Linked DNA regions of Homo sapiens: region 1 is linked to region 2. The links come from fine-mapping of genetic effects on gene expression. A gene starts in region 2. The other region holds a variant in brackets. All regions are shown on one strand. Distances are between the middles of the regions.

Region 1 (5,344 bases), 33 kb before region 2:
ACTCTTTCCCCATACTGAGGTTGGGTGGCCCAAGAGGCCTGGCATGGGAGGCGGCTGATCTGCATAGCATGGATGATGATGACAATGCCAGTCAGACCTAGTTCAGCCCCCGAGCCCTGCACACACCTGCCTTGGGTCCTGTCCACCACTCTGCTTCTGCTGTGTGAGGCTGCATGTGTGCCCCGTGCCTCTCTCCTCCTCTAACTGGTCATCTCTAGACATCCTCACTCTGTAAGTCCTGGGTCAGATGCCATCTCTTCTGGCTCTTCCTGGGCTTCCAAAGCCTGGACAGAACTCGGTCTTTGTGCAAATGTAGACAGAAAGGTTAGAAGGATATGCATCCCAGGTGTCTAGACTGCTTATCCCATCTGGGAGGGTGGATCATGCATGCATTTATTGTTTTCTCTATTTTTAAGTCTGTTAGAATGTATTTTTATTATTTTATTTTATGATTACTGTTTTTTTAGATCTTGTTGCATACCAGTTTTTTTTTTACTTAGTGTCTGTATCCTGCTGAATTTTTATAATGAACATACTATTTATATTCAGACAAAATGCAGTGAATATCATCTTTATTTTACTTATTTTTTTTTTTAAGAGACAGAGTCCCACTCTGTTGCCCAGGCTGGAGTACAGTGATACTCTCATAGCTCACTGTAATCTTGAACTGCCTGGGCTCAAGCAGTCCTCCTGCCACAGCCTCCCAAATAGCTAGGAATACAGGTGTGCACCACTGTGCCAAGCGTTACCATTTTTAAATGAGTAAATGTTTAAAATCATCAGAATCTCACCACCTGAATAATGTTTTCAGTTTTACCTTTTCTGTCAATTCCACATGCAAACATATTTAACATAGTTGTCACTATAGAGCAAGTATCGTTTTATTTTTCTTCACTTATCATAAGTATCTTTCTGGTTTCTCTTTTTTTTGGGAGGGGAGATGGAGTCTCACTCTGTCGCCCAGGCTGGAGTGCGGTGGCACGATCTCGGCTCACTGCAACCTCCGCCTCCTAAGTTCAAGCGATTCTCGTGCCTCAGCCTCCTGAGTAGCTGGAACTACAGGCGCGTGCCACCATGCCTGGCTAATTTTTGTATTTTTAGTAGAGATAGGGTTTCACCATGTTAGCCAGGCTGGTCTTGAACTGACCTCAGGTGATCCGCCTGCCGTGGCCTCTCACACTGCTGGGATTACAGGCGTGAGCCACTGCACCCAGCCTCTTTCTGATTTCTTTAATCTTCAAACAATGCAGCATTTTCTCCTGGGTCAAGGCGCCTTTGTTTGCTAAAACTCCCCCTGCTGTAGACGGCTCCACAGCAGATAACGTAGTTGCAGCATTTTTCTCTCAGAAGGGATTTCCTAAGGGAGGAGAGTATGAGTGGTTGTTGATATGTGGCTGCCTTGAGCTTTCTGAAGGATTAGGCTGCTTCCTTTGGTCATCCCCAGGCGCTCAGCATGGTAGGCCTGAGTGCTAGGCCTACCACTTGCTCACACCAGTGCCAGGCCTGAGTCCGAAGGCCTCTGCTCAGCCCTGAGAAGAAGGCCTGAGAGCCATGTGCCGGGTGCTTGTCCCGTAGGTCCCACAGGTCAGCTGGTGAGGGGGGACGCCAGTGGGAGGAGACATGGGTGAGGGAGGACACTGGCAAGAGACTCCGGGAGGTTGTATTGAGTGTAGATGGGGACAGGTACAGTTCACTGGTCATGCCCCAGAACAGGGACAGGACAGCCCATGGGGACCAGGCCACCAGTGCTGCACAATGCCTGTTATCTCTGCCAAGCTCCCCGTTTATCTCTGCTGGCCCACATCATAGTTATTTGTTAATTCTTTTCTCTCCCTCTCCATTTCAACCCTTTAAGGTCAGGGGCCTTGTTTTTCATTGCCGTTTTTCTTCTTTTTTTTGAGATGGAGTTTCACTCTTGTTGCCCAGGCTGGTGTGCAATGGCGTGATCTCAGCTCACCACAACTTCCGCCTCCCAGGTTCAAGTGATTCTCCTGCCTCAGCCTCCCGAGTAGCTGGGATTACAGGCATGCGCCACCATGCCTGGCTAATTTTGTATTTTTAGTGGAGACGGGATTTCACCATATTGGTCAAGCTGGTCTCAAACTCCTGACCTCAGGTGATCCGCCCGCCTTGGCCTCCCAAAGTGCTGGGATTACAGGCGTGAGCCACCGCGCCCGGCTGCTGTTTCTCTTAACATAGAATCTAGCCCAGCATAGGAACTTAGTGTTCCAATTGGATCAGTCCATGCTCTGTCTCGTTACCTTTCTTTGGGCAACACATAGAAAGTTCTGGTTTGTTTATACCCCCGCCCTGTTCCAGAAAGGATGCAAGGAAGCTTACCATAAGTACACTGGGCCCAAATGACTAAAGCAAATGAAAACGGAGTGGTTAGGAAAAACTGGATAAAGAGGAAATGTTCAAGTTGAAGAGGGAGCTCGTACTCAGCTTTTATTTGGTGAACATTGCTGGGAGTTGGGCGTGGCTCTGGGCCTTTTTAGAACCAGGCAGAATGAGACGTGAAAATCATTTGCATACTCAGTGTGGTCAAGGTTAGCAGCAGCCTGTGGCTCTGAAGAAGTAGAATCACACGTGGTCCTGGAATCTGAGATTTCCTACAGCCCTCAGGAAGAGGGCACAGTATAGTAAGGAAGACCAGGATCGTCCATGAACTCCACAGTGAGTTTCACTGGGCTGTTCCTCCTAGGAGTTCTAATGTAAAATATGATGCCCACTGAAAGTAATTTAGAACAAAGTCTTAACCAGTGGAGAACCAAAATAGTGTTGTTCTGCGAACTCTTCCTCAGCTCTGGGTGGTATTTGGCATTTGTAAGAGCTGTGATTCTTAATTGGTGGTTAGATGCCATGCCAAAATTGTTACTGATTTGCTTTGAAATTTCAGATCATCTTAAAGGTGGGCATGAGAGTCTTTATCACAGAGGGATTAAATATGTGAAGTAGCAGTACTTGAGTAGCACGAATGAAGTGTATGTTCAGCCCACCTTCAGAATCAGGATTGGCCAGGCGTGGTGGCTCACGCCTGTAATCCCAGCACTTTGGGAGGGTGAGGTGGGAAGATCACTTGAGGCC[A/G]GGAGTTTGAGACCAGCCTGGCCATCATGGTGAAACCCCCTCTCTACTAAAAATATAAAAATTAGTCGGATGTGGTGGCACACCTGTGGTCCCAGCAACCTGGGAGGCCGAGGCACAAGAATCGCTTGAACCTGGGAGGCAGAGGTTGCAGTTAGCTGAGATTGTGGCATTGCACTTCAACCTGGGCGACAGAGTGAGACTCTATCTCAAAAAAAAAAAAAAAAAAAAAGGAATCAGGATTTTTCTCAGGTTTCTGGTAGGTGTTGTGATGAGTTTGAGGTTATTTTCTCTGAAAAGGACTTGAAGTAGTGCTTCTCTGAATCACTGGTGATGTATGGTGTCACCTGGCTTAACAGCCTGCTGAGGGAGGGAAGTATTAAAATCCTCCAGAAAAGATGAGTTGCCTAACCAGAACACATGTGGACATAGATGCCATCTTCACCCAGAAGGGGAACAAGGGGATCCCCTCAGGAAGAGTTTTGGAATCTGTCTTGGCACACAGGCAAAGGAGTGATTAGGGCCCTGAGTGTCTACACTTGGCTACAGAAGGCAAGTTTTTAGAGATTTATATCCACATGCTTGTTTTGGGCTCTAAAAAAGTTAAATGAGGCTGAGCACAGTTGCTCACGCCTGAGGCTGAGGTGGGCAGATCACTTTACCCCGGGAGTTCAAGACCAGCCTGGGTGTCACGGTGAAACCCCATTTCTACAAAAATTCACCAGATGTGGTAGCACGTGCCTGTGATCTCAGCTACTTGGGAGGCTGAGGTGGGAGGATAGCTTGAGCCCGGGAGGTTGAGGCTTCAGTGAGCCGTGATTGAGCCACTGCACTCCAGCCTGGGCAACAGAGTGAGACCCTGTCTCAAAAACTTTTTTTTTAAAGTTAAAAAAAAAAATCAAATGATAGATTCAGGAAGCCAAGTGAAGCCCAACATGATTAACCCAAAGCAATCCATGCCAAGACACATCATAATTAAACTTCTGGAAACTCAACACAAAGAAAAAAATCTTGAGAGCAATCAGAGAAAAAGGACAACTTACCTGTAGGGAAAAGACAATAAGAATGGTGGTAGATTTCTTTTTTTTTCTTTTTTTTTTTTTTGAGATGGAGTCTTGCTCTGTCGCCCAGGCTGGAGTGCAGTGGCATGATCTCGGCTCACTGCAAGCTCCGCCTCCTGGGTTCACGCCATTCTCCTGCCTCAGTCTCCCGAGTAGCTGGGACTACAGGTGCCCACCACCACACCCGGCTAATTTTTTTTTTTTTTTTTTGAGACGGAGTCTGTCGCTCAGGCTGGAGTACAGTGGTGCGATCTCAGTTCACTGCAAGCTCCGCCTCCCGGGTTCATGCCATTCTCCTGCCTCAGCCTCCCGAGTAGCTGGGACTACAGGCGCCTACCACCAGGCCCGGCTAATTTTTTGTATTTTTTTTTTTGAAACGGAGTCTCTGTCGCCCACTCTGGAGTGCAGTGGCGCAATTTCGGCTCACTGCAAGCTCCGCCTCCCAGGTTCACGCCATTCTCCTGCCTCAGCCTCCCGAGCAGCTGGGACTACAGGTGCCCGCCGCCATGCCCGGCTAATTTTTTGTATTTTTTAGTAGAGACAGGGTTTCACCGTGTTAGCCAGGATGGTCTCGATCTCCCGACCTCGTGATCCGCCCACCTCGGCCTCCCAAAGTGTTGGGATTACAGGCGTGAGCCACGGCGCCTGGCCAATTTTTTGTATTTTTTAGTAGAGACGGGGTTTCACCGTGTTAGCCAGGATGGTCTCGATCTCCTGACCTCGTGATCTGCCCGCCTCGGCCTCCCAAAGTGCTGGGATTACAGGCGTGAGCCACTGCGCCCGGCCAAATGATGGTAGATTTCTCATGAGAAACTGGACGCTAGAGCAAGTGGCAGGATATTTTTCAAGTACTGAAAGAAAAGAACTGTTAATCTAGAATCCTGTACCCAGTGACAGTATTGTTCAGGAATGAACGATATTGGACATTCTTTTTTTTTTTTTTTTGAGACGGAGTTTCCGCTCTTGTTGCCCAGGCTGGAGTGCAGTTGCACAGTCTCAGCTCATCACAACCTCTACCTCCCGGGTTCAAGTGATTCTCCTGCCTCAGCCTCCTGAGTAGCTGGGATTACAGGCATGTGCCACCATACCCGGTTAATTTTTGTATTTTTAGTAGAGAGGGGTTTCTCCATGTTGGTCAGGCTGGCCTTGAACTCCCACCTCAGGTGATCCACCCACCCTCGGCCTCCTAAAGTGCTGGG
Region 2 (5,372 bases):
AGGTGAGATGGGGAAGCCAGTGCTGTGGGCCAAGAGACTGCAGCTCATTCTGTTTATTCAGGTGGGCCCTTGCATGGGCCCAGCCTTTAGGATGGGTTTTTTCTGCCCCAAGTAGGGGTCATGGGTAGGATGGAAGCTGCCAGAAGCCTCTTAGGCCTGGCCCTGGGTGGGGGTCACTGCTGCGGGGGTGGCAGATGGGGTCCTGGCTGTTCCTCAGGGAGGGGCAGGTAATTGGGGTCTTCTGCAGGGGCATCCAGGAGCAGCTTTCTGTGGGGAGGGGCCCGTGTTGAGCACAGGCCAGCACAGGTCCCCATCGGTGGGGATCCTTCTGAGGGTGGGGAGAGGGAGGGAGGGCTCTCAACACTCACAGGAAGCCAGGGGTCTGCAGGAGCCTCTTGCCTCCAGGCTGGTTGGGGAAGACGTCCTCCAGGAAGTAGTAGATATGGCCCACCGCAATCCCTGTGAGACAGCCACGGACTGTGGGGTCACCCTCCACAGCCCAGAGTCCTAGACCAGCAGAGCCTGCCCCAGGCCCCCATCCACAGCCTGGTGGCCCTGCAGGCCCCACAGCATGAGTGCCCCAAAGCCTTGCACAGAGTGCCAGCCCCGGGTTGGCCGTGAAGGACAAGCTTAAAAGGCCCAGAAGCAGGCAGGACCCAGGGAGGGGAGGGCCTGAGAATAGTGGAGGAGTGGGAGCCATGGGGCAGGAACCCTGACCCTCCCATCCTCACTCCCATCAGGACCGTGCAAGCATCAGTAGATCCGTCCTGACGATGCAAATTATGTGGGCCGGCTGGCTTGAGGGGCTGTAAGAGCACAGCAGCTGGGAGGGCAGGAAGATGGGGATGGAGCCAGGTGTGAGGAGAACTCCAGCAAGGATGGGAGAGGGGCCCCAGGGCATAAGCAGCGTGTCCTGAGGGGAGTGGCCAGCCTGGGGCGGACTAGATGTACCGGGAGGCTCACCCAGCAGGTCCACGAGGATGGAGTTGCCCAGCAGCAGCGAGAAGCCCATGAGCGCCCAAGGCAGGAACGGTGCCTGGAAAGTGAGCAGGCCGAAGAAGTTGACCCTCACCCGAGGGCTGCGGCGGCTCCACACGTACACCAGCATGGCCATGAGGGCCTGGCCCAGGAAGAACAGGCTGCCCAGGAGTCCCAGCAGCTGGGCCAGAGTCAAGGTGCTCCGGTGCAGGCCTCAGCCCAAGCCCAGGGCCCCTCTGACTTCCCAAGACCCTGGAATTCTTCCCCTCATCTCCCCTATGTGCTATTCCCTCATCAAGATGAGCCAGTCCAATAAAGGCGACACACTCCACGGGCTTCAGGTCCCACGAAATCTGCCCTGCACACCTACAGCCTCATCCCAGGGCCCAACCACTGCCTGTCCCTGCCCCAGTTTCTCCCGGCTACTCGCATTCAGGGCTCAGCTAGTGGCCCTGACAACCCACCTGGCTCTTTTGTGCATGGCTTTGTATTTTGCATACAGCACTGAAGATCTAGCCCTGACCCCTGCAGCTGAGCACAGAGTGGGCCCTCAACACATACTAAGCTGGAGACAGCGACTGTGTCCCTCTCTGGCATGGCTGTGTTGGCCCCAGGACCAACACAGGCTGGACGCCGAGGCGCCCTAGCCCGAGGTTCCAGAGCCTGCGGGAAGGATACGGTCATAAGGACGCCCCCGAAGAGAAACATGAAGACGAAGTCGGCCGTGCGGCCGCGGAAGGAGCCCTCTTCCAGCATGCGGCAGTAGCGGAACCTACGGCGTCGGTATAGGAAGTGCCACCAGGCGGGGCCTCAGTTTCCCCGTCCCGGCCTCTCTCCCAGCCCGGCCGGCCTGCCCTCCACCCAGCCCGTGTCCGCAGGGCGCAGGATACACGAAGAGCATGTTGAAGAAGAAGCTGAATCCCAGGGGCCCGAAGAAGAGGAAGTTGGTGACGAGCCTCCAGACCTACGGGGGACGGGCGGTCAGGTGCGGGGTGGGTGGGTCGGGCCCACAGGTGCGCGGCGCGGGGCGGCCTCACCTGGAACTTCCGGAACACAAGGTGCGGGTTGAAGTAGAGTTGAAAGGGGCTGAGGAGCTCCAGCTGCTGTGGAACCAGGGGCCAGTCAAGAGCTGCCCGGGAGCCACGCCGTAACCATGGCGACCCTCACCCCTCCCGCCAGAGGCTGTAACCAAGGCGACGTCCGGTCCGCCCGGCCGCTTACCACCGCGGCGGTGGTGAGGACACAGGCTGCGGTGTAAGCCCGCGTCACCGCCGGCACCTGCAGGAACTCGGCCGCTAGTCCCTGCCACGCCATTGAACCTTCTCAAGCACGCGTGGCCCAGCCAGCAACGCGCTCTTTAACCCGCCTCCCAGCCCCGCCTTCGGCCAATCCGCATCCGAGGCGCTGCGCGCCCCAGGCTGAAAAGAGAGCCCCTGAGCCCGACAGCCAATGGAAGGAAGAAGAGGGAAATTAGGGGCGGAAAGGGAGAGTGGGCGGGTAGAGGCTGGTGGCCAATGGGCAGGCGCCAAGGTTGAGCACGTGGCGGTTGTTGTGGCTGCGGTGGTGGCGCGGGAGAACGTGTGGCCAATGAGGAACTGGTCATTTCGCGGCTTTCTAGGAGAGGACCAGTAGCGTGGACCCACGACACCACGGGGGCGGGGCTAAGATCGTATGGGTTACAGGAGCGAAGACCCGAGCAGGCGAGGCAAAACTGGAAAGGGCGGGGCGCGTGGGCGGGGCGCGGAGTGTGGCGGCTCAGACCGTGCTGGCTCACTAACTGACGACCTAGCCACAACGTTGTCCTCGCTGCCAGCCCAAGACAGGCCCACCTAACCCACAGCAGGGAGGCATTCGGGAATGTGTCCAAACCTCCCCAAACGTCCAGGGCCCCACTCAAATGTGCCGGCCGCTGTCGGGGTTCTTCCCCGGGGGCCCAAGGAAGGAGAGGCAGGACTGCGGGATTGAGTCCAGGTGGGGCGCGAGGGTTGAGAGGCGCACCAGAGCAAGTGGACAGGCAGGAGAGGTCCTCAATATTTTGGTGGAAAATAGAAACCAACCTACCCACCTTCCTTCCCTCCTTCCCTCCCTCCCTCCCTCCCTTCCTTCCTTCCACCGTTTATTAAACAACTGTTTGCCTGACACTGTTCTAGATGTTGGGGATGTAGCATGCAATAAAAGACACTGTCTCTTAGAGTCCAGCCAGGAGGCAGTCAATACAATAAGCTAGTGCTGACACTTGATGAGAATATTGCCAAGTGAGGGGTGGGGCCACGTGGGCGTCCGCAGTGCCAGGTGGGGTGACCTGGGATACCTCTAAAGTTTGTCACTTTGCAAGCATCCCTGTGTCCATCAGGATGGTAACTGTGAAAAGCAAAACAATAAAACAAAATAAGTGTTGGCGAGGATATGGGGAAATTGGAACCCTTGGGCACCGTTGGTGGGAATATAAAATGGTGCATCCGCTGTGAAAAACAATATGATCATGACTCAAAAAATTAAAAATAGAATTACCGTATGATCCAGCAATGCTGCTTGTGGGTACACATTCAAAAGAATCAAAAGCAGGGACTTGAACAGATGTTCATACACCCATGTTCATGGCCCCATTATTCACAATGGTTCACATCAGTTCACCCACCGATGAGACAGACGAAATGTGCTGTCTACATGCAATGCAATACCATTCAACCTTAAAGGAATGAAATTCGGATACATGATGCAGCATGGATGACCCTTGAAGACATTACACCCAGTAACATAAACCAGTCACAAGGCTGGGCGCAGTGGCTCACACCTGTAATCCCAGCACTTTGGGAGGCCGAGGCGGGTGGATCACCTGAGGTCAGGAGTTCGAGACCAGCCTGGCCAACATGGTGAAACCTCGTCTCTACTAAAAATACAAAAATTAGCTGGGCGTGGTGGCGGGCACCTGTAATCCTGGCTATTCGGGAGGCTGAGGCAGGAGAATTGCTTGAATCCGGGAGATGGAGGTTGTGGTGAGCCGAGATTGCACCACTGCACTCCAGCCTGGGCAACAGAGTGAGACTCCGTCTCAAAAAAAAAAAAACCAGTCACAAAAAGACAAATACTGTATGGTTCCACTTATATGAGAGGGGATCAGGGAGTTATTGTTTAATGAGTGCAGTTCCAGTTTGGGAAAATGAAAAAGTTCTGGAGATGGATGGTGGGGAGGGTTGCATAAGAATGTTTAATACCACTGAACTGAACACTTGAAAATAGTTTGGACAAATTTTATGTTGTGTATATGTTACTAAAATTTAAAAAAAAACAACAAACCTCTGTGTTTGCTGTCAGGGTAGTGGACTGCCAGAGGAATCCTTGAGCAGGGGGAATCCTTAAGGGACAGTGATTACTTTCGGGGCTGGGAGGTGGAACCTGGAGGACAAGGAGGGGTGGGATATGGGTTTGCCTACAGACGGGACAGGGCTGAGAGGGGAGTCCAAGTGGATTCAGAGGCCTGAGCCGCAGAGTGGTTGGATGGTGGTGGTCTTTGTTGAGATGGAGGGCTCGTGGGGAGAAGGTGAGGGGCATAGAGGGTCCTGTTCTGGACTCATCGAATTTGAGGCATCTGTGTGACATCACTTGGAAAAATCTGAGTGTGGTGTTGGGGTAGGGGTTGGAGCAGACAGTCTAAATGTGGGTGCCGTCATCCAGTAGTAGATCAATGGTATTTGTAGCTTTGGGCGTGTGTGAGATGCTCAAGGGGCAAGGGTTGATGGAGAAAAGAGGCCAGGCCTGGGTAGCCTGACCTGCAGTAGCCAGGGAGGGAAGGCAGCCCCAGCTGGGGAGGCCAAGGGAGGCTGAGCCAGGAAAGGGCTTCAGGAGCCAGGCAGTGAGAATCCAGGGAGACGTGGCCCGGGAAGGGACTGTGAATTGCAGCCATGCCAAGGTTCCTGGTAACCAGGATAATGGCAGGCAGGAGGGAGAGGAAGGCACACAAATGGATGTGCCTTAACAAACAAGGGGAGTGCAGCCTTGGAGGGAAGTGTGGAAAACGAGGGATGCTCTGGACAGGGCCCTGAGGTCCCCCGAGGAGACTGGAACTGGCCAAGAGGGAGAACTGGCTGAGAAGGCTCTCAGGTGGATCCCAAGAGCGTGAGGGTCCCACAAGGGCCCTGAGAGGGGTTCCCTGGGGAGTGGGGTGAGACCAGTGCCTAATGACAGTGGGTTCAGGAGCCTTCCTCCCTGCTCTGGAGGGGACGGGGAGAGCCTGGAGTGCTGGAGGGAAGTGCATTTGCTGGAGGGATGTGAGGAGAAGGTCTGGCCTCATACAGCAGGGGTTGGACCAAGACACTGAGGGGTTGGGGGCTGGGAGCAGGGTGAGCGGACCCCCGCAGACAACCTTGGTTTTCCAGCAAAGCAGGCTAAGGTCA

The links. PIP is the estimated chance that this variant, and not a neighbour inherited with it, causes the effect.
Region 1: its variant is fine-mapped to the expression of DERL3 in whole blood (TOPMed, PIP above 0.99).

Annotation. Positions count from the first base shown.
Region 1 is chr22:23,803,625-23,808,968 of GRCh38, forward strand. All of the region lies in intron 5 of SMARCB1 (SWI/SNF related BAF chromatin remodeling complex subunit B1), which reads left to right. Among named protein-coding and RNA genes, the nearest start is that of SMARCB1, 19 kb to the left of the region's middle. RefSeq lists an enhancer at 1-294. The variant A/G (reference allele first, on the strand shown) is at 3,088.
Region 2 is chr22:23,836,696-23,842,067 of GRCh38, forward strand. DERL3 (derlin 3) reads right to left here and starts at 2,311. Exons shown (of 7, transcript NM_001002862.3): 1 at 2,200-2,311; 2 at 2,016-2,081; 3 at 1,869-1,942; 4 at 1,657-1,750; 5 at 964-1,159; 6 at 369-459; 7 at 1-267. The coding sequence starts at 2,292. The coding sequence ends at 174. It overlaps SMARCB1 (SWI/SNF related BAF chromatin remodeling complex subunit B1), which reads left to right. Exons shown (of 9, transcript NM_003073.5): 9 at 1-1,314. RefSeq lists a silencer at 2,234-2,536.